Regions from separate parts of the Homo sapiens genome. Here region 1 is linked to region 2. Evidence: fine-mapped expression QTL. Tissue or cell type: whole blood. Region 2 holds a variant in brackets; the other region holds the start of a gene. All regions are shown on one strand. Distances are from middle to middle.

Region 1 (11,231 bases), 96 kb before region 2:
TAAAGTAGTTTATTTACCTCCCTAATCTCCACCACCCACAGCAACAACATACTATGTGCAAGGCCCTGATTTAAGCAGTTTACTGCAAGGTGTACAATCTCATCGAAAAATCTTGGTGCCAGATGTGTTTCTGAATTTAGAAATGTCCAGACCTTTAGACAGGAAATATACTTTATATACCATATGTTATGTAATACACCATTAGGGTCTATGGTGCAACCCCATAAACATATTAGTAATTCTATAGCAAAACAAAATAAAGATCAACATTAAGTAGAATAAAGACTATAAATACCCTATGTCAGTTTAAGTCAGGTTTTGCCACCACATGAGTTTTGGCATCTAAGTTACCAAATAAAATCTTTTTCAGTTTTCAGAGCTTTAGAAATTTAAAAATTGCAAACAAATTGTGGGCCTAGGCCGGGGGAGGTGGTTCATGCCTGCAATCCCAGCACTTTGGGAGCCCGAGGTGGGTGGATCACCTGAGGTCAAGAGTTTGAAACCAGCCTCGCCAACATGGTGAAACCCTGTCTCCACTAAAAATAAAAAGTTAGGCCGGGAGCAGTGGCTCACGCCTGTAATCCCAACACTTTGGGAGGCCGAGGCAGGTGGATCACGAGGTCAGAAGATCGAGACCATCCTGGCTAACATGGTGAAACCCTGTCTCTACTAAAAATACAAAAAACTAGCCTGGCGTGGTGGCACGCACCTGTAGTCCCAGCTACTCGGGAGGCTGAGGTAGGAGAACCGCTTGAACCCAGGAGGCGGAGGTTGCAGTGAGCCGGGATCATGCCACTGCACTCCAGCCTGAACGATAGAGTGAGAGAGCGAGACTCCGTCTAAAAAAAAGAAAAAGAAAAAGAGAAAAGAAAAAGTGGGCCTAGCTAATTCATGTAATCTTTGCAAGTACCATAAGAGGCAAGTTCTATTACCCCTTTTTTACATATGAGATAACTGAGGTACAGGGAGGTTTACTGACTCACCCAGTGTCTCACAACTATTAAGTCTCCTAGCTGGAATTGAAACCTAGGTGGCCTAGCTCCAGAGCTTGAGCTCTTAACAAGTATGCTCTACAACCTCTCTCAGAAACCACTTCGGAACACCAAACACGTGAAAAGTAAAACAGTATTAAATGATCTAACATCAAAAAATTAATAGGAGAAACATCACAAGACAGTATTTATTCATTATTCAATAACTATTTATAAAGTGCATACCATGTGCTGGGTGCTCAGAATACAACAATGAGCAAACCGGATGAGGTCTAGGTCGCCTTCATGAAGCCAGAGGCAAGTGGGGAGATGGCCAGGCATCAAATAAGCATAATTATGACACAACAGGGCAAGTGTGTGACTGCTGTTCACCTTCAGAGGGGGAGATCTAGTTCAATGGGGAATAGTGTAATAGGACCTGGAATTTGAAATGACAAAAAAGAAAGGCATGGCATCCATTTGACAAGCACCCACTGTGCACGTACTCTATGCCAGGAATAATGCTAAGCACAAAAGTTCCAAACTGGGGAAAATCAGTTTAAACCAATAGAGATTTGTGAAAGGGAATAATAAGGACATATGGGAAAGTAGGCTGGGATCAAATCAAGTTGACCCTGCAGGCACTGATGAAGGTTATTTTGCAGGTTATTCCCCCACAATATTAGGATTTACTCCTATGGAATGTCAATAATCATCTGCATTCCTATTTGGGACCAACTAGACCTCAAAGCTGGATTGCTTTCAAGGAAGGGCTTAGGGCAATAAATTCATTTAAGCCTCAGGAAACACAGTAACCCTAATCTCTCAAGGAATAAAGGTATGGCCATTTGAAAATGTTGGAGAGGCAACAGGTAAAAGAAAATGATAAGCCCTTCTTAAAATTCCAAAGGCCCTTTCTAAAACCTAGGTTATTCCTTTATACAAAATAAAATTTCCAACCTTCCAAAGGAAACATATTTCCATGAGAAAATAAGATATCATTCTTTGAAAAATAAATTCTTAAGTTGAACAATGATCTGATTTTTAATAAAGTTGGTGACAACTTACCTTGTAGCACAAGTCACAATGTGACAGTGGAAAGTAAACTGCCTTTTAACATACTCACCTCAGGGTTCCCATTCCCCCATCCCCTTACCTAAACAGAGTAGAGGAACCGAATTACATGATTATTTAGCATACTGATCATAGAGTTTTTTTTATTCTCAGGTATTAATATAAATGACTGAATGAGTAGACATTCTATTTATCCTCTGCAAAACATTTTTTTTTAAATTTCCCTGGATAATTTTTTTAAGCCAATGACCTTCCCCAGGAAAGACTCTTCAGTGGCTTCCTATTGTTCTGAGAATCAAACCCAAATTCTTTCTCAGGACCTCCAAGTCCTATTTATCGGTTATTGAGCTGCTTCTAGGCTCTGTAACATCTTCTTTAATCCGCCATGCTGGCTTGCTTTCTGCTCTTCAAAAACGCCAAGTCTCTTTTTCCCCCCTCAAGGCCTTGGCTCTTACTCTTCTCTCTGCAAGAATGTTATCTCGGGAATGTTCTCCCAGATCCTGACAAGGTAGGCCTATTCTCTCTTCTCTTTCAGGTCTCTGCTCAATCATCTTCTCTGAAAGGCCTTTTCTGACTTCCCACACTAAAGTAGGCCCTTCCTAGCTATCTGTATCATATTCCCCTACTTATTTTCATTGCTCTTACTACAGTCTATAAGGATCTTCTTCATTTGTTTGCTCGTTTATTGTCTGTATTCTCTGGTAGAATATAAGCACTGTGATACTCCACAAGAGCAAAGATCATGCCTTATAAGGTTTATCATTGTGCCTAACACAGGGCCTTGGCACACAAGTACCCAGTAGATTTTGTAAAATGAATTAGTAAATGAATGAATGATACATAAAAACCTGATTGTTATGAATATCAGTAACTTGAGAAAGCCATTTTTATAATTTTGAGATATTTTCTCTAGGGCTATTCATTTCTCTACAGTCTTTCCACATTTTCTGAAATAATTCCTGGAAATTTGTTGTATTATTTCATAGCAATAAAAATACATCGGTTTCAATCAGTGGATTTAAGAAAAAAATATTTTCAAGAGGTTTTAGTGGTTTATCAAACATCAATAAAAATCAAACAATTTGAAAATTGGTCAGTCTCATTTCACTACTGCAAGTCAAATTACATGAAGAAGCATAATTTGAAATGTACATAAAATGAGAAAGAAGATAATCCAATAAGTAAGTGCAGTTACATTTAGTAATATCAGAAATATCCAGTCTGCTAACCTCTAGGTGTACCAGATGGACTATCAAACACATATTGAGTCATATTGAAGATTCAGAGCAAAATGCTTATGGCTAACTCATCCACCTTTATTCTTTTCCTGGCAAATATAAATAGTCTTACTATGCAATCACATTAGCAGCAATCTTAGCTTAGATTTTGTATCAATAATAAGCATGAAAAGAAAAAAGTAAGAAAATAGTATAAACTCTTTTCCTTGAAAAAGTTGTAAGTTTTTATGTATTTTGAGAATAGTTTGCTAAGAAAATTACAGACTTAGAAAGTGGGCCTATTAGAATAAGTACCCTTTCCCTACTACATTCCATTTTTTAATAAACCTCAAGTAAACTCAGGAATTTACCAAATCAATTGGGAAACTACAAATCATCTGCAAGTTATCTAACTAAATTGATAAGCAATAGGCCTTACTTTTCTTGTGAAAACTACTTTCTTCAGAACATCAACTGAGCCTTATATAATCACACTACACTTTTTGAAGTGTGCTTATAAAAATGGCAGATTGAAAACCTTGGGCTTTTTAATAATTGAAGCTCTTATTTATCTGTTTTTTAAATACATCATTTGATGTTGCAGCAGAAACTACTCTCATCTCACTGCCATAAGACGTGCTACCAGGACAGTGAAATTTAGCCATTATCTTCATTCACAACCTGGTTTCTTCTGAGATTGCTGCCAATTAGTGCACACTGTGTCAATGGCAACACTTGGTCATACATCAGGCAAACAACTCTTTTACCGTTAAGTATGAGGATATTAATAAGAACTTGCAGTTAAGGGAGCTAATATTTTTAGATGTAAAATGATGTCATAAATGCTGAATTATTTCATTTTTCTCAGTTTTTAAATTTGAACACTAGATACAGTCTATTTCCAAAAACACAGCTGCGTATGTCAGCATGTGCTTGTTCACTGGTATTTGCCTCCACTTTGTGCTTCTCCATTCAGCTTTCTTCACACACTAATTGCAGTATGAAAGTGAGCAAATGAACCTCAGTATGGGAGCTAACACCACAACTACATGGGGAGAAAGCGATATCGCTAAGAGTGAGTAGTCTTTTTTGTAACTACGTGGTTTTAAAATATGCTGCTTTTAGAGGGTTTATACAAACATGAAATCTACTGTTAAGAAACTGTGGCTTCAAAAAAAAGAAAGCAGGTGCCCTCCAGAGACAGTTTTAAATCCCAGCGTCTCTTAGTCTCCATTCAATGTGCTTAGTTACCAGCCTATGCTAACTTGAGCGACTTTATCCCAAACCACTAAAGTCCTCTGACTACATTAAAACGATTAACATCCTAGTTTACAATTAGAGAAATGGAGCCAGGCATCACAATTCCCACCAATCCTCTCTCTCAGGCCTGCTCAGCAGCCAGGGAAGAATCAGATTTAGGACCATGTACGAAGATTGCGTACCAACATATATACATACATTTTAAGTGGCTATTGTTCTTGGACTAAGTTAATGAAACCTAGAAAGAAACTTTAAAGTTCCCTAGTTGATATTTACTAAGGCTATTTAGTGAAGGAATGATCTCATCACTTTCAGTAAACTGTAGCCTAGACTATAAGCCTCCAAGAAAATCATTAGTCAACTGTAATTAAACAAACAAACAAACAAAAAAGTCAAAATATTCAGAGCTGAAGACATTCAGAGCTAAGTTAAAAGCTTCGAGGAAGAAGAGGAGTGTGCTCCTGACTTGGGAGCCAGCAGAGGAGCCTCCTAAGTTAGAAGATTCTGAAGGAGAGATGGATTAGGAGGCACAAAGCAGAAACTGTTAGAGGGCAAGAGACAGTAGGGCCGGGGCGGGCAGCGGGACCCCAGACCGTCAGGGCAGCAACAGCGAGGCCCAGAGGAGAAGATCTTGGAGAGATGACAAAGAAGCACAGGAAAGCCGGGTTCTGGGGTCCTAGAAGAACCCAGGCGTCCGACGGAGCCAGAGGGACCGGCAGAAAGGGATGCGAAGGTGTAAGGATGAGGGCGCGCACCAGCACGCGGGAGAAAAAGAGGGGGCGGCGGGCAAAATGAAGCTGTTTCCCTGCTCCTCTGCTCCTCTGCCCCTGGTACAGATCGCAACTCCTCGCCGCGCACCGCGCAGCGCCGGGTCCGAAGGCAGGGAAGCGGCTGCTGGAGCCCCTGTGACTTCAGGACCCTGCCTCACCTTGCTCGCCGCGTCCTGGCGTCCCGCCGCTTGTCCGCCGGGTGCTGCGCTCCGAGGGCCAAAGAGGGAGTCGCGCGGCGCAGCCGGGGCTCCCTCCTGCTGCGAGGCACCAGCACCCGCACCTTCGCACCCTCTGCTCGCCCCGACCACTTCACCCTGTCCTGGCGCAGGCGGAGAGCACGGACCCTAACCCGAATGCCGCTGCAGTTATTTTCAAAAGTCCCCGTTCCAGGCTTCCCAGGAATAGGAGCTGAGCTACTGCGGCCGCAGCGGCAGAGCCTCCGCCTGACCTCACCAGGGTGTGGGGGGGCTGCTGAGGGAGGGGGGCGGGAACCCAGTTGGGGAGGGAGGGGGCAGTGGGGGGGGGAGCGCGCGGGCGGGGGAAACATGGCGGCGGGGGTGGCCCCGGCGGCGCCTGCGCGGGAGGCAGGGTGGCGGGGAGCCGGGGCTAGGACGGTGTGTGGGGTCCGAACGGAACTCCCAGGCTGTAGCGAAAGCGTGACAGGGCCGGACCCTGAAGCTGAATGACCGCTAAGTGGCCCTCACGCCTCGGAAACCGGGAGGCTCTGGTGTGAGCCCACATGGATTCTAGTGCCGGGAGGCAGAAAAAGTGAAAAGTGTCAAGTATCCAGGGACAACAGTGCAGCCGCCCCGGGTTAGCCACTCCAAGGAGGTCCACCCGTGCATTCTGCCAGCCGTGGCCTCGGCCTCCTCATAGTCACGGCGGGGCCCGAGCAAAGGGTGTGCCCTGGAAGCGGTGCCACCTCACCTCAGTGGGGCCCACGTCTCAAAATAAGCCTGACCCAGGCTCTCACACAAATATCACTCTTCTAGTGGGATAAGCGCTTCATCCCTCCCCCTCCCTGCTGCAGTACACAACATTAAGAAAGAGGAAGGATAAAAACTACAAATAACAGTTTAACATTTTACTGAGCGTCTGCTATGAACCAAGCACTGAAGCATCAACTTACCTAATTCACAGCTACTCTACAAGTTACACACTATTGTCTCCATTTTACAAGTGACAAAACTGAGGTGTATAGGTTAACCAAGTTGCCAGAGGTTACATAAATAGTAAGTGGCAGAGCGGGACTCAGGATCCCAAGCGGTGTGATTCTGGTACCCAGGCTCTTAACCACTATGCAAACTGCTTCCAAACTCTGGTGGGACTGCTCTTCTAAGTCAGAATCTTGATTCTGCTCTATCAGCCTAGCCCCCAAAAAAAACCCCAGTCAAGCCTGTTTTTCCCCTTGCTTGTCTTCTATTCATTCTTTGCCTTCTTGACGGTTACAGCCTGGGGCCACCTTCTTACACCTATTCCTTTGCCCTTTCTACTTATAATTCCAGACTCCTCCTTGGGAAAATAAAGGGAGTTTGCTCTTAGCAACCAGTTTAATCACTATTGTGATTTTTTTTCTTTGGCTGTTTTTTTCTTCTTCTTCTTCTTAAGGAAGTGATGCGGTGAGTGTGGAATCTTTATGTTTTCTAGGATTTCTCCCTCTGGGATCTGAGATCTTCAACATTGCTGACTTTGTATTTCAACTTACATACACTGAAATTCTAGTAGTAGGTTTTAGGTAAATTTGAGAATAATCAGCTACTCAAAAACTTGCTAGAACTAAAGATAATACCACATTGTTGGACTTTACCAAATAATCAAAGAACTCCAAATATACATAGAATTTGCATTATTACCTTTTACGTGCAAGTGTATTGAACCCAATTCCCCTTTGTTAACAGGAATGCTTCCACTGGCTTCTCCACTATGCTTATTCAATAATTATTGTATACCTACCTTACACACTAAATGCTTATTGGGTAGAAAGCACCTTGTACAGAAGTTTACAATCTCACTGAGGTGATATATTCCAAACAATCACTTTTAGCATGTATCAAAAACCTGGCACACAGGTTAAAAAAAAAATAAGTACAAACTGAGCTGGTGTACACTCGAGTCACTGCTTTGTCCTGCCATAAAAAGGTTCAAGTGGGGTTACTTTATAATAAGTTTCTCCCACAGAAATGCCAGTAAAAATGGGATAATCCAGTGTGGGCCAAGCAGCCCTTATCTACACAAAGAGAAAACCCTCATAGCAAGGGTGTTGAGATGGGGGCAACTGCAGGATCTGCATTTGAACTGCCAGTAGCTTGCACAGATTCTCAGTTTAAAAAAAAAGAAAAAAGAAAAAGAACTGGCAATAAGATATTACAAATATGCTTATCCAATAGAAGTCCATTGCTGTTTGGGTTCGGATGCTTTATCTGAATACTTAATCTACTGGATAGAGCACTAGACTCAGAGTCAGAAGACAATTTATGTGCTATGTGACATTAAGTTAGTGCTCTGAGAGTGTTTTCCCAAATTTCCAGTGGGGAGCAAAATAATACTGGTCTGATATGCCCCACAGCATTGTTTTGGGTTTCAAATAAGATAACACATGGGAGAGTATGTTGCATTTGGAGAAAAGGTCTTTAAAGAGGTAATTCAGTTAAAGTAATGTCTCTAAGATGGGCCCGAATCCAATATGACTGGTGTCCTTTTAAGAAGAGTTTAGGACTTAGACATATATGCACATAGAGGAAGGACCATGTGAGGATGCAGTGAGAAGGCAACCACTTGCAAGACAAGATGGGGCTTCAGAAGAAACCAAACTTACCTACACCTTGATCTTCCAGAATTACAAGAAAATAAATTTCTGTTGTTTAAGTTACCCAGTCTATGGTGTTATACTTTGTTATGGCAGGTCTAGCAAACGAACATAATGGGAAGCATTTCAAATGCCAGCTAGAGTATCCGCTGACTTAGTTATTGTTCATTGCTAAAAACACACACATTAATTATCTGTTTCCACGTGTCAGGAGTCCAGGTATGGTTTAGCTTGGAGCACTGCTCAGGGTCTCACAAGGCTGCAATCAAGTTTTTGGCTGGGCTGTGTTCTCATGTGCAACTCAGAATCTTCTTCCAAACTCATTCAGATTGTTGGCCAAATTCAGTTCCTTGCAGTTACAGAATTAAGACCCGTAGCATTTACTGGATCTAGAGGCAGCCCCTCTCCATTAGCAGTTGACAACATGGTTGTTCTACTTAGCCAAGGCCAACAGAAAAACTTCTTTCTCCTCAGGAGGGGTCCAGTGCCTCTTTTAAGGTCTTTTACCAGATTAAGTCAGGCCCACCCAAGATTATCACCCCTTTGATTAACTCAAAAATTAACTGTGTGCCTTGATTACATCTGCAAAATCTCTTCACCTTTGCCACATAATGTAACCTAATCACAAGAGTGATAGCCCAGCATATTCACAGGTCCCAACCATACCTAAGTGGAGAATGTATAACAGAAGACAAGAATCTTAGGACCATCTTAGAATTCTCCCTACCATGCCCCAAAGATTTGACAGCACCAATTAATTATACAATTATAAAAATTAACTAAGAGACCATACAGGCAGATGTGGGCACACACATAACATACATACACACACACACACACACACACACACACACACCAAAGTACACAGAGCTGGTAGCTGATCCCTAATCGGTCTAAAAGCATTTGCAAGCTTGCTGTGTGCCTAATGTGAAACTAAAAGATTTCAACTGCATTAATTCTGACTAAAAAACAAATTGAAAACTATTTAGGATACATTTTGTCTCTCTGGTAAATTTGCATTTCCTCAAAACACTCATCTCATCAATTATTGAATGGAGCCTATTATTGAATGGAATCTATTATAAAAAAAAAAACCCTCACAGGGCTTTGGGTAGCATACACAGAAGGGTCTTGCTTTAGAAGTTAGAGATAAATCTGATTAAAGATGTGTAAGACCTGTCCTGAAAACTTTAGGCTTAAATAAATGTAGAAATATACTGTATTCATAGGGCAGAAGAATTGATATCATTAAGATGTCAATTCACTCCTAATTGATTTATAGTTACAGCACAACCCCGATCAAAGTCCTAGCTGGCTTTTTCTGTAGAAATTGACAAGCTGATTCTAAAGTTCATATGGAAATTGAATAAAATAGCCAAAACAACTTTTACAAAGAGCATTAGGGGGATAATACTACCTGATTTCAATTTTTACTGTAAAGCTACAATATTCAAGACAGTGTGGTATTGATCAATGAAACAGAATAGAGTCCATAAACAGACCCACAACGTATATGGGCAAGTTATTTTCAACAAATATTCAAAAGCAATTCAGCTTTTTGAGGAACCTCCATACTTCTTTCCATAGTGAGAGCACCAGTTTATATTGCCACCAACAGTCTCCACATCCACGTCAATACCTGTTATTCATCCTTTTGACAATAGCCATTCTAACAGCTGTGAGGTGATATTTCACTGTGGTTTTAATTTGCATTTCCCCTGATGATTAGAGATTTTCAACATTTTTTAATATATTTGTTGGGGATTTGTATCTCTTCTTTTGAGAAATGCCTGCTCAGATTCCTTTCCCCTCTCTGGGTATATATTCAAAGGAATTGAAATCAGTATGTTAAAGAGATATCTGCACTCCAGTGTTTATTTCAGCATTATTCATAGTAGTCAAAACGTGGAAGCAATCTAAGAATCCATCAATGAATGAATGGATAAAGAAAATGTAGTACATATACACAATGAAATACTATACAACCTTAAAAAAGAAATTCTGTCATTTGCATCCATGACAACATGGAAAGAATTGGAGGAAATTATGCTAAGTGAAATAAGCCAGACATAGACAATACTGTATGATCTCACTTATATGTGGAATCTAAAAAAGTCAATCTCATAGAAACAGAAAGTAGAAAAATGGTTATCAGAGGCAGGGGAAGGAGGAGGAAGCATGGGGAAAGTGAGGATGTTGATCAAAGGGTCCAAAGTTTCAGTTAGACTGGAGAATAAATTTTAGTGACCTATTGCACAGCATGGTGACCGCAGCTAATAGTGTATATTTCAAAACTGCTAAAATAGATTTTTAGAATTCTCACCACAAAAAAAAGATAAGTTGGTGAGGTGATGGATACGTTATTTATCTTGATTAAATCTTTCTATAATGTATACATAGACGCAAACCTCACATTGTATCCCACAGATATGCACAATTATTATTTGTCCATTTAAAAAATTTAAAGGCAATTCAGTGGAGAAAGGGTAGCTTTTTTCAACAATGGTGCTGGAACAACTGGACATCCATGTGAACTAAGATCCATACCTAATACCATCTACAAAAATTAATTCAAAATGCATCATAGACCTAAATGTAAAATCTGGAGCTAGAAAATTTCCAGAACTTTGGCAAAAACCTTTGTGACCTTGGGTTAAGCCAAGATTTTTTAGATATGACACGAAAAGCATGGTCCACAAAAAGACAAATTAAGAAGTTGAACTTGATCAAAATTGAAAAGAAACAACTCTTCTATAAAAGACACTGTTGACAGAATGAAAAAAGAAACTACAGACCGGTAGAAAATATGCAAAAATCATATCTAATATTAAAAAACTTGCATACAGAATAAAGAACCTTCAAATCTCAATAACAAGAATATGAACAACAAATTAAAAAAAAAAGGTAAACTATTTGAACAGACACCACCAAAGAAGTTACATCAAAGAAGCATGGCAAACAAGCACATGAAAAGATTATCAACATCATTAGTCATTAGGGAAATGCAAATCAAAGCCACAATGAGATAACACTACAATGTACTAGAATACCTAGCACTAAAAGGAATAATTATAGTAAGTTTTTGCAAGGAACTACAACTCTGATATGCTGCTACTGTGAATGAAAAATGGTA
Region 2 (11,231 bases):
TATATGTTTTTCTACCACTTTATCTACCTATATGCCTATCTATCTGTGTATTTAAACTTTCTTTTGTTCAGGAAAGGATTTAAAGTGGTTCCTAAATACATAACATTTTGTACTTTGAAGAGAGCTACCTCTTGAAAAATAAGTTCCTTCAGCCTTTACTTTCAGGCCGTGTGTCTCTGTCTGTAAGGTCCAGGAAAGAGCATTATCAATCTGGTGACTTTGGCTAACTGAAATGCTAAAGTAAACTTTCTGAGAATTGTTCCAATCTATCACTGTACAAATGATTTGGAAGATGGTCAAACAGTCTAAATCCCATTTGTTGCAGCCAATTCAGTCAATAAATGCTTGCTGAACTGCATGTTATAGTCAATATAAGCAGGCATTGAACAACTCTAACTTCAAAAGCAGGTCCAAAAAAGGAGATAATCATCTGTAAAGCGCTCCAAAGTCAGGCAGTTATGGTCATAGCTAAAGTGAGACCCTGCTGACACAAACCCTGTTCATCTCCAGCAAAGTTTGCTTTTGCCTAGAATGTCTTTCCATATCCTTACTGCCCCCTGCTTCTTCCCCATGAAGGCAGCTTGATATAGTGGAGACAGGGAAGCCTGAGTTCAAAGCCTAACTCTGACATTGACTAGCTATGTGACTTTAGATGATTCATTTGGTCTCTCTGAGCCTCAATTTCCCCATCTGCAAAATGGAAATAATCATAGCTAGATCACAAGGTTTCACTGAGGGTTAAGCCTGAAGTTCCTGGCTCTGATTAATATTAATTCATTCTCTTACCCCCTTCTCTGCCTTGATAAATTCAACTTATTCTTCTAGGCCCACTAAAAATGTCACCTCCTTTGTGACACCTTCCTTCAACCTCTCTACAGATATAGTTAATTGTGCCTTCCTCTGCACATTCATAGCACTTGGATCAGATCCATACTACTAGACTACTTACTTACCACTAGACTACTTACCACATTACATGATTTTCATATCTGTCTCAATAGAGTCAAGGCTCTTTGAGGCCATGGCCTATATTGTATTCATTTTTATATGCCACAGTATCTTGTAACTGTGCCAGTGCTCACATATAATAGATACTCAGTAAATATTTGCCAATGAGTGTTCAGGTATAAGCAAAGAAATAATACCAGTTTGATATTTCAAGTAAGTCTGGTGGTATGACCTAGTTAAGTGTCTCACTTTGAGGTTTTGGTTTGCTTTTGCATCATTCATCTATAGAGTTGTCTAAGAGGGTAAAGAGACCTGTTGGCAAGAGAAGAAACAATGTGTCTACTTTATTTAGATTTTTAAAAGACCTTTGACAACTAGGCATAATTCCAAGGAAAACTTTGCATGTAGGCAGAAAACTGCCTCCACAGCCACTCCACCTCCTCATGCTGAAATCCTACCCTTTCCCATGCTGTCTTTGGTATCACTTCCCGCAGGAAGCCTTTCCTGATTCCCCCTACCTCATGGGGTTCCACGCTGCTCTGGATGGCAGGTGCATTTTGCCTGTCCTCTTTTGTGGCACATCGAATAGTTTGTTTTTCATATATAGAGTTCCTTGAATATGTGTCTAATCCCCCTACCAGGCAAAGAACAAGAGAGAAGAAGTGGGTCTTACCTCTAGCATCCCTGCAGCATCTAGTATGAGACTGTATACATAGTAGGTATGTAATCTACCATTGTAATCAATGGATTGAATATATAAACGAGTGCCCGCTGAGTGAGAGACACTGCATGTAAAAGCCCTGCTAGAATGGTCAAAGGTGAATCTCCCAGGAATGTTGACATCAGAGAAGGGGAAGAGGAAACAAAGGCAACCAGCTTTTATTGAGTATGTGCTCTTTAAGCTCTTTCATATGCAGGAAGAAAAATCGATTTGGGTGTCTATTACGTGCTAGGCTCTGTGTTAAGCATTTGGTCATACATTGTCTCATCTGGTCTCCTGACAAGAACCCTAAGGGACAGTCTTATTCTCCCCTTCATCACTTTTATCCTTTCCATATATATATATGTGTGCATGTGTGTGTGTGTGTATATATATATATATATATATATATATGTGTGTGTGTATATATATATACACACACATACACACACAACACACATATATATGTGTGTGTGTGAGTGTGTGTCGAAAGGGTCTGATATAATAGATATATACAATATCAACATATATAGATAGATATCAACATATATATGTGAGTGTGTATATATATATGTGTGTGTGTATCCTTCTATGATATCAACCCCTTTCAAGGGTCTGATTATATAGATGTATATTTCAACATATATATATATCAACATATATACACATATATCAACATGTATATATGTATGTATATCTTTATATTATATCAGACCCACAGCCAAGGAAAAGGTACAGTTCCTGATCATAAGAGGTTCACCAGATGAGTGAGAAAGACATTCATGTAAACAGACTATACAGAACAATAAGAAATCACAATACAGAACAATAAGAAATATTTTGTAAAAGAACTTTGAGAAAGTTTCATACTTAAAGATTTTTTAAGCCTACTATGTTTGTTATCAAGACAACACTTACAAGTGCAGTCATGACTTCTGTAATCCAATCTGTTCTCCATGTCCTTTATTCTCAGCTGATGGCTTAATCTGCTCACTGGAATGATAAAGACCATCCTGTATGAGCAATCTGGCTGCTGCAAGTCACCTTTAAAGTTAGGCCTGAGAGGCCGGGGGCGGTGGCTCAGGCCTGTAATCCCAGCACTTTGGGAGGCCGAGACGGGTGGATCACGAGGTCAGGAGATGGAGACCATCCTGGCTAACACGGTGAAACTCTGTCTCTACTAAAAACACAAAAAAATTAGCCAGGTGTGGTGGCGGGCACCTGTAGTCCCAGCTACTCGGGAGGCTGAGGCAGGAGAATGGCATGAACCCGGGAGGCGGAGCTTGCAGTGAGCTGAGATCGCGCCACTGCACTCCAGCCTGGGCAACAGAGCGAGACTCCGTCTCAAAAAAAAAAAAATAGCTAGGCCTGAGATAACCTGGGGATTACAAACTCAAAGCCCACCCTGGCTAAGCAGGCAGAGTGTGAGTGCATCTGCATACACGGTGTGAGGGGTGGGTGTGTGGTTGATTAGAGAGCAAACAGTCCATCTAAAGGGTGCAGTAGCTACTCCGCTCCAGCTGACCCACATGAACTAATGCAGGCCTAGTGTTGCCAGAGCGTCTGGATTTTTCAAGAGAAACCAGAAATGTGAGTTTGTAAATTGTAAAATCTCCTGGTTTTTCATTGTTGACTCAAAATGTTTGGAATGTTGTATAGGCCAAATAAAACACAAACACCATTTTGTGCTCTTTGATACAATAAAAACAACACAAAAAATTAACTATCATGGACTTGACCTCAACATACTGTACCTTGCTGAATCTCTCCTGGACTCTGCATATGAAAGCACTGCCATCATCACTCCCTGCTATCCACATCCTTCACCCTGGAACCAGTGACTTCCTTTAAGACAAATCCAGGGCCTTTTCTCCATTCTTATAAGCCCCGACCACTGCAGCACTTAGCCAATATTGCTGTAAGACCCCAGTTACTACTTGGACCAAGACAACAGGAACAAGTTTGGATCTCCATCCCCACTGCTACTGCCTTATAGCCAATCATCTTGCCATCTCCTGGATAGAAACTGTGGGTTTCTGTCACATTTCCTGACTGTGTTCGATGCATTGTGCTTGAGCATCTTGAGTCCTCTTTTAATACCTTATTCTCAAAAACACAAACCTGATCATGTTGATTCCCTATTTAAAACTCTCCACTAGTTTCCCACTCTCTTCCAGCAGGATGTCCAAGGCTCTTCATGCCCCAGCCCCTTCTTGTTCCTTCAGTCTCATCTCCCATCACTCCACACCTTCCTTAATCCCTACTTTTGACTTAGCCAAGCTATTAAAGCTCCCTGTAAATGCTACGCCCTTCAGTGCCCCAATACCTTGGCAAATAATGCTGCCTTTGCCTAGAAAATCTTTCTCCTAGCCCCCTTCTCCAGGGAAACTCCAACTACTCCTTTGACCTCAACTCAGATTCAGCTTCCCTGGGACCAGCCCCATCAATATACCCAACTATGTTGTACTCTCCTATGGCCCTCTATGAAATGATCAGAGCACTTATCTCACTACTATAATTGTTTGGCTCTTCTGCTAAACTATAAAGGCCTAAAAGATGAGAACTTTTAAAAAAATCTCTGTATTCCCACTCTCCAGCATAGTGCGTGGCACATGGCCGACACAATAAATGTTTGCTGAATGACTGTGAATTTCTTGTATTAATTAACGAGTGTCTTTATACCAAAAAAAGACCCATCTCAGTGCAGCTTAGCATGAGACAAAAACAGCAGGGAACACACAGAAGAGAACATGTAGGACTTAGACAAAGAGAAAAAGATAGAAATCCAGAATACACCAGAACAGCAACAATTTCCTAATCACAAAAGATAGGGGTCTTCCCCAATTCCTTACTGAAGAGGAAATTGAAAATAACATTAGAACTTGGCAGGGCACAGTGGCTCATGCCTGCAATCCCAACACTTCGGGAAGCTGAAATGGGAGTATCACTTGAGCCCAGGAGCTCAAAAACAGCCTGGGTAATATAGTGAAACCTAGTCTCCACAAAAATTAAAAGAAAAAAAATTTAGCCAAGCATGGTGGCACATGCCTATAGTCCCAGCTACTTGGGAGGCTGAGGTGGGAGGATCACTTGAGCCTGAGAGGCGGAGGTTGCAGTGAACTAAGCTTGCACCACTGCACTCCAGCCTGGGCAACAGAGCGAGAACTTGTGTCAAAAAAAAAAAAATTAAAACCTGCCAATATAGGATCTGTGGTTTGTTGTAGATAATTATGTTATGTTGTGAGTTGGGAGGATCGCTTGCAGCCTAAGAGTTATGTTGCCTGCATTGAGTCATTTTTAGCTAAGTCTTTTTGTTGTGTTAAAGTACTGTTAGCTGAACTGTATGGACTCCACCTGGCAAATGCAGTTAAAGTTCTGATGCCCAGAGGGGGAAGACCAGGAAAGGAGCAGATTTTCCCAGATGGGACCTTGACATGGCTTATGTTTCTGCTTGGGAGTGCTACCAGGACCACATTCGCAGCCGCTCTCACATTTGCTCCTCACAGCTGCACTGAGCACCAAGCCGAGGAGGTATTATTATCCCCATTTCAGAAATGAGGAAACGAAAACTGCAAGATTAAATAAGTTGATTTTTGTTCCTCCTGCCTGGGGCCCCCAAGATAACAGCAGCAGCTTCACCAATATTCCTGCACCTGCCTTAGTCCAGTCCCTCCTATGGTAAACCCCAAATTTTGGAGCTAAGAGGCTTCCGTAATGATCTGCCTCAAGCCTCCGTGTTTCACAGTGAACTCATGTTTTTAGCACTTTCACCAACCTGGGGGAGGAAAAGCAAAGGGAGACTGGCCAGAAACCAGCTCCTTAAATCCCTCGGTTTCCCCAGCAGGGGCCCAGGCTGCATCATGTGCTCTTGCCAGTCACTGAGATTTTCCTCTGCAGTTGCTGGTATCCATATGCTCCACTTGTGGCCTTAGCTCATCTCTGCTGCTGTGGCCCCTAGCCTCAATGTATTCAAATAACAGAAACTCAGCAGCAGAGCCGTGATGTGACTTGCCCTATGAATCCAGGGAAGGGAGGAGCAGATACTGGACTTGACATCAGTTTTTCTGACTGCCAGTGAAGAGCTCTGTTTACCACACCATGCTGTCTTTTAAAAGGCAACAGAAGCTGGGGCATGTCAAACAGTATCGTATCACATGAAGAGCTTTGCTGCTGCTGCTGCTGCTGCTGCTTTGAATATCAAATATTATAGCCACCCCTTATCAAAACGCTAAAATGGAATTTCAACATCTTTTGAGCATGGAGAAATTTTTAATCAAAAAAGACTCTACAAAAAGGAAATTAAAAACACAAACAGACACCCAAAGAGGAAAACTAGAGGCGATGTG[T/C]TGCTATAGAAAGAAGGTGTTAGACAAACCACAAAAATGTATCAGCAAAACCACTTCTCTTAATTCTAGCTCCAGGAACCATTTGCAACAGAAACAATGCACATGCTGCTCCTGCAGAGAAGCCGGGTGAGCAGTCAGCCCAGCCCACAGAAAGAGTGACCAAAAAGTCACAAGCTATTAACTTGAAAAGAACTGAGGACTACAAGCTATAAGCAGAAAGTGACAGAGCCCTCAGTCAATCTGCAGAGATTAACTGCATGCTCATTAATTTCTCTTCAGTATAGTCCAATAAGCATGGTCCAGTGTTTTAAAGTAGATCAAGACAGTGGCTCCTCACCCTGCAATGCTGCAGAGACCAGGAGGCAGGTCAGTGTCTCAGGGAGAGAAGGTAGTGCTGTCAGTGAGTTCCCCAAAACACCCCAAGATTGGGTGTGTGTGTGTGTGCGTATTTACACACAATCATCTATGGGCATTATAACTACAAGATATCCATTCCATAGCCCTATAGGGCCTAGCTCACAGGAATCACTAAATTAAATTGACCCAATATTAATAATAGCCAATAATTATTGAGCATTTTAATGTATTATCTCCTTTAATCCTCTCAATAACCTTGTGAAGTATGCACTTTCATTGTACTCGTTTTACTGCTTACACAGAAAGGTGAAGGGGGCCAGGTGCAGGGCTCACACCTGTAGTTCCAGAACTTTGGGAGGCTGAGTTGGGAGGATTGCTTGGAGCCTAGGAGTTAGAGACCAGCTTGGGCAACGTGGAAAAACCCTGTTTCTACCAAAAAAGTATTAAAATATTAGCCAGGTGTGATGGGGTGAGCCTGTAGTCCCAGCTACCCAGGAGGCTGAGATGGAAGATCACCTGAGCCCAAGGCTGCAGTGAGCCATAATAGCACATCTGCACCCCAGCCTGGGCAACAGAGTGGGATCCTGTCTCAAAAAAGAAAGAGAGAGAGAGAGAGAGAGGGAGGGAGGGAGGGAGGGAGAGAGAGAGAGTTCTTCTTGGAGCTTTCTCTGTGCTGATGCCTACTTTCAGGTTTCAGACTGAGTTCTTCTTGGAGCTTTCTCTGTGCTGATGCCTACTTTCACGTTTCAGGCTGTGTTGTGTTTAGGCTGGGGAATATCTTGGAGATGGAGGGGTGGGTAGATTGGGGGGTGGGAGTAAACTCACCATCGATTTGGTAATATTTGAATTCAGGTTTTCTTCCCCAAACGGCCTGCTACTATCTACTTTTCAGCATCTTCAAATAGCTGCCCCATGAATTCTGTCCAGTAGGAAATGGTGGGTGGAAGCATGCTTACTCCATCTTGCCTGGAGCTGAGGGCCCTTTATTTCTTCCTTGGAGATCCAGTTGTTGAACACTTATCAACACACTACAGGCTGATTGTACCAAGTGTTGGTATAAGCAAGGAGACTCCTTATGCAATCTTTCACATTACATTCAGGCAGGTCTACCATTTTCTATCTGTGCCTCTGAACAATTAGTTGCCACACCACCCTGGGCCTCAGTATCCTCATTTGTAACTTGAGAATAACCCCGTCTTTATGGCCAGGCGCAGTGGATCACGCCTGTAATCCCAGCACTTTGGGAGGCTGAGGCGGGCGGATCACGAGGTCAGGAGATCCGGACCATCCTGGCTAACACGGTGAAACCCCATCTCTACTAAAAATACAAAAAAATTAGCCAGGCGTGGTGGCGGGCGCCTATAGACCCAGCTACTCGGGAGGCTGAAGCAGGAGAATGGCGTGAACCCAGGAGGCGGAGCTTGCAGTGAGTCGAGATCGCGCCACTGCACTCCAGCCTGGGAGACAGAGTGAGACTCCGTCTCAAAAAACAAAAAAATGCTCTTCTATGCAATTGTAAACATTCTTGCAATAATTGAAAACATAGAAAATCTCTAAAAGAAATAGAAGATATAAAAGAGAAGTAAACGTAAAATTTATTTATTGATTTGTTTCTTTTTGAGACAGAGTCTTCCTCTGTTGCCCAGACTGGAGTGCAGTAATGCGATCTCACAGTGGCTCACTGCAACCTTCACTTCCCAGCCTCAAGAAATTCTCCTGCCTCAGCCTCCCCAGGCACGCACCACCAGGTCCAGCTAATTTTTTCGTATTTTTAGTAGAGACGGTGTTTCACCATGTTGGCCAGGATGGTCTCGAACCCCTGACCTCAAGTGATCCGCCTGCCTTGGCCTCCCAAAGTGCCTCACAGGCGTGAGCCACCACACCCAGCCCAAATGTAAAATTTAGAAATGGAAAACACAATAACAAAAATTTGAAACTCACTCGAAGGGATCAATAGCAGATTGGAGATGACAGAGGAAAGAGCCATTGAACTGAAAGATGAATGAAAAGAAATTATCCAATTGAACAAGAGAAAGAAAGAGATTTTTTTAAAACATATCTGATTTGTAGTGTTTGCTGATTTCTATACTGAAAATATTTCCACCATGGCCCATGTCAAGGTACCAACTACACATTAGTGAATGCATAGTCAGGAAGAGGTGCACACAACTGGCTGTTATCCATAAATATTGCTCACTCCTCAGGCAAAACCAGCAGTACTGTGGGCTATTGAGTCTCAACCTTCTGACCACACACACCCTGAGGCTGTTGATATCCTTTTTAGGCATTCTCAACTCCCTCTGAGCCGTCCCTGGTGTTCTCCTCAACCTGATTTCAAATGGATAAAAACGTGCAGAAGGCATACAGTAGGATTGCCAGGGCCATCCCCTCCATCTCTAGAGGAAGTCTGTATGTGTAAGACAACATTTCTCCAACAAGGAAATGAGCTAAATGACTTCAGCTAAAACCAACAGTATATTTCTCAAATTAGGAGCCTGATGTCTGACACAGATAAAATGTGGAAAACATAACCTAGATGAGCAAGTACAGGGTGGGCACACACCCTATATATGGAATGGCAAAGCTGGGCTTATAATTGATCCTCAGGTCTGTCTTGTCATTCTGGAGCTTTGTACCAAAAGCCGCTGTAGCATTCCAAATACAACCCCATGTTAAAATTACTCAGCACCCTCAAGAAAGGCTGAAAAACACGGTAGGCTGGAAGTTTCAGTGACAGGGATGCTATTCTGATTAAGAGTCAGTTGTTTGTCAACAAGCAAAGTTTCAGGGTAGGGACGGTTCTGAAATTCTTATACAGGGCTCCATGACATCAAAGATCCAAAGATCATAAGCCCCTGCAATGGCTTATGAGTATTAAATCCTCAAAGCCACAAATATCCCAGAAAGTTCCTCTCCAACCTAACCATCTCACTTGTACACAACACCCAAAGGTCCAGAGTGAACGAACGACTTTCTCAAGGTCATAAAACTAATGAGCCATAACAAAAAATGCAGTCTTCTGATTCCCAGTCCCGTGTTTTTTTCCTGACATCACACTTCCTCTTACACTTCCTTCCCTGAACAAGATTTATCTGGCTAATGGTAATAGAGATGAAAAAGTATTTGTGTGGTTTAGAGGAGAAACAAAAAAAACTAATGGGCCAGTCACAGTTGACTCTGATAGCATCAAGGAGGAGGTCAAGCTAGTGATATTGTTGTTGTGTAAGGTAGAAAATGGAAACGCATTCTGAATCGAGGAATTTGGATAGTCCCCTCTAAGAAGTTAGCAGGAACACTGTTTTGAGAAGTGCTCAGGGTGCAGCTGCAGTGTTATTACAGAGCTGTTGGGAAAGCCCAGTGCCCAAGGTGGTAAATGTATTCTAGGTGCTCCCTGCTACCACCCCGCCTCTGTAGCATACACTGCCAAGTCTGGTCAATTGTTTGACAAGGCAGCTGTGTGCATGCCCGTTAATTACACTGTGGAGCACCAAAGTGCAGTGTCAGGCAGCTGCCTAGAATATCAAAAGGCTGCTCGTGGGACAGGCCAGCTATAAGGGCTCTCTTCAGAGAAGTCCATACAGCAGCTGACTCTCCCTCCCCATCTCCCCCTGCCCTCGCCTACGCAGCCCCCTTTAAAGTCTCATTATGAAGGTTGGAATTCTATATTTTCACAGAGTTACTTTAGAATCCATAATGGAACAAGTGTTGTTGATCTTTCTGACATGCCTGAACGAGATGAATGTGAATACTATCTTACATTTCTGCCTCTCCTAATGGTAATATTTCCCTTGAAACCAATGTATCCTTTGCAATATGTTTACCCCATCTGATTAGAATTACTTTCAACTAATTCTATGCTTCCAAAATAATGGCAGCTAACACTTACATGGAGCTCCATATGTGCCAGGCACTTTATATAAAGTAATTTATTTACTCCTCACAATAACCCCAGGTAGATGTTATTAGTATCCCCATTTTATAGATGAGGAAACTGAGACTTAGAGGTTAAGTAATTTGTCCATATCACACGGCCAGTACACAGCAGAGCTGGTATTGAAACCTAGGCATGTGCCTCCTCCATCTCCATGTTTTGTTTTTTCTTTTTTTCGGAGTCTCGCTCTGTCACCAGGCTGGAGTGCAGTGGCACGATCTCAGCTCACTGCAACCACCGACTCCCTGGTTCAAGTGATTCTCCTGCCTCAGCCTACCGAGTAGCTGGGATTACAGGCACATGCCATCGCGCCCAGCTAATTTTTGTATTTTTAGTAGAGACAGGGTTTCACCATGTTGGCCAGGATGGTCTCCATCTCCTGACCTCATGATCCACCCAACTCAGCCTCCCAAAGTGCTGGGATTACAGGCATGAGCCACCATGCCCGGCCTCCTCCATGCTCTTAACCACTACAATGATACTGCCTCAACCAAAGCTAATGGTGCAGGCCCATCAGCCAACATTAATCTAGCTTCTATAATGTGCATATGTTTGATATTTTGTTCTACTTGCCGCCTTTAGAGTCAAGTCAATTTTCTCTACCTGTTTTTCCACAAATACAAGGAGGGAAAATTCAATGCCCTGGGGTGACACTGGGTGATCAAAGTTGACTGGGGTGATCAAAGAAGGCTTCATGGAAGAGGCGGATCTTGAGTTGGACCTTGAAAGTTTCAAGTCTGCCTATCAGAGGTTAAAGGAGTTAGAGAGGAGAGGTTATATCTGGCAAAGGGACCAATGTGAGCAAATTCACACAGGTAGGAATGTACATAGGAAATAAGTTAAACTGTGAGGCTGAGGTACTGCTGGTGTGCCTGGATCACAAAGAGATTTAGCTCCAATGTGAAAGATGGACTGATAGACTGGTATATGGATAAGGAGAAGGAGGAAG

What was found.
Region 1: KLHL13 starts here. The variant in region 2 is fine-mapped to the expression of KLHL13 in whole blood (TOPMed, PIP above 0.99). The same link has a PIP of 0.9 or more in blood mononuclear cells.

The regions. Positions count from the first base shown.
Region 1 is chrX:118,111,058-118,122,288 of GRCh38, forward strand. It overlaps KLHL13 (kelch like family member 13), which reads right to left and starts at 5,753. Exons shown (of 8, transcript NM_001168302.2): 1 at 5,451-5,753.
Region 2 is chrX:118,206,895-118,218,125 of GRCh38, forward strand. No RefSeq gene overlaps it. Among named protein-coding and RNA genes, the nearest start is that of KLHL13, 96 kb to the left of the region's middle. RefSeq lists an enhancer at 4,847-4,916. The variant T/C (reference allele first, on the strand shown) is at 5,995.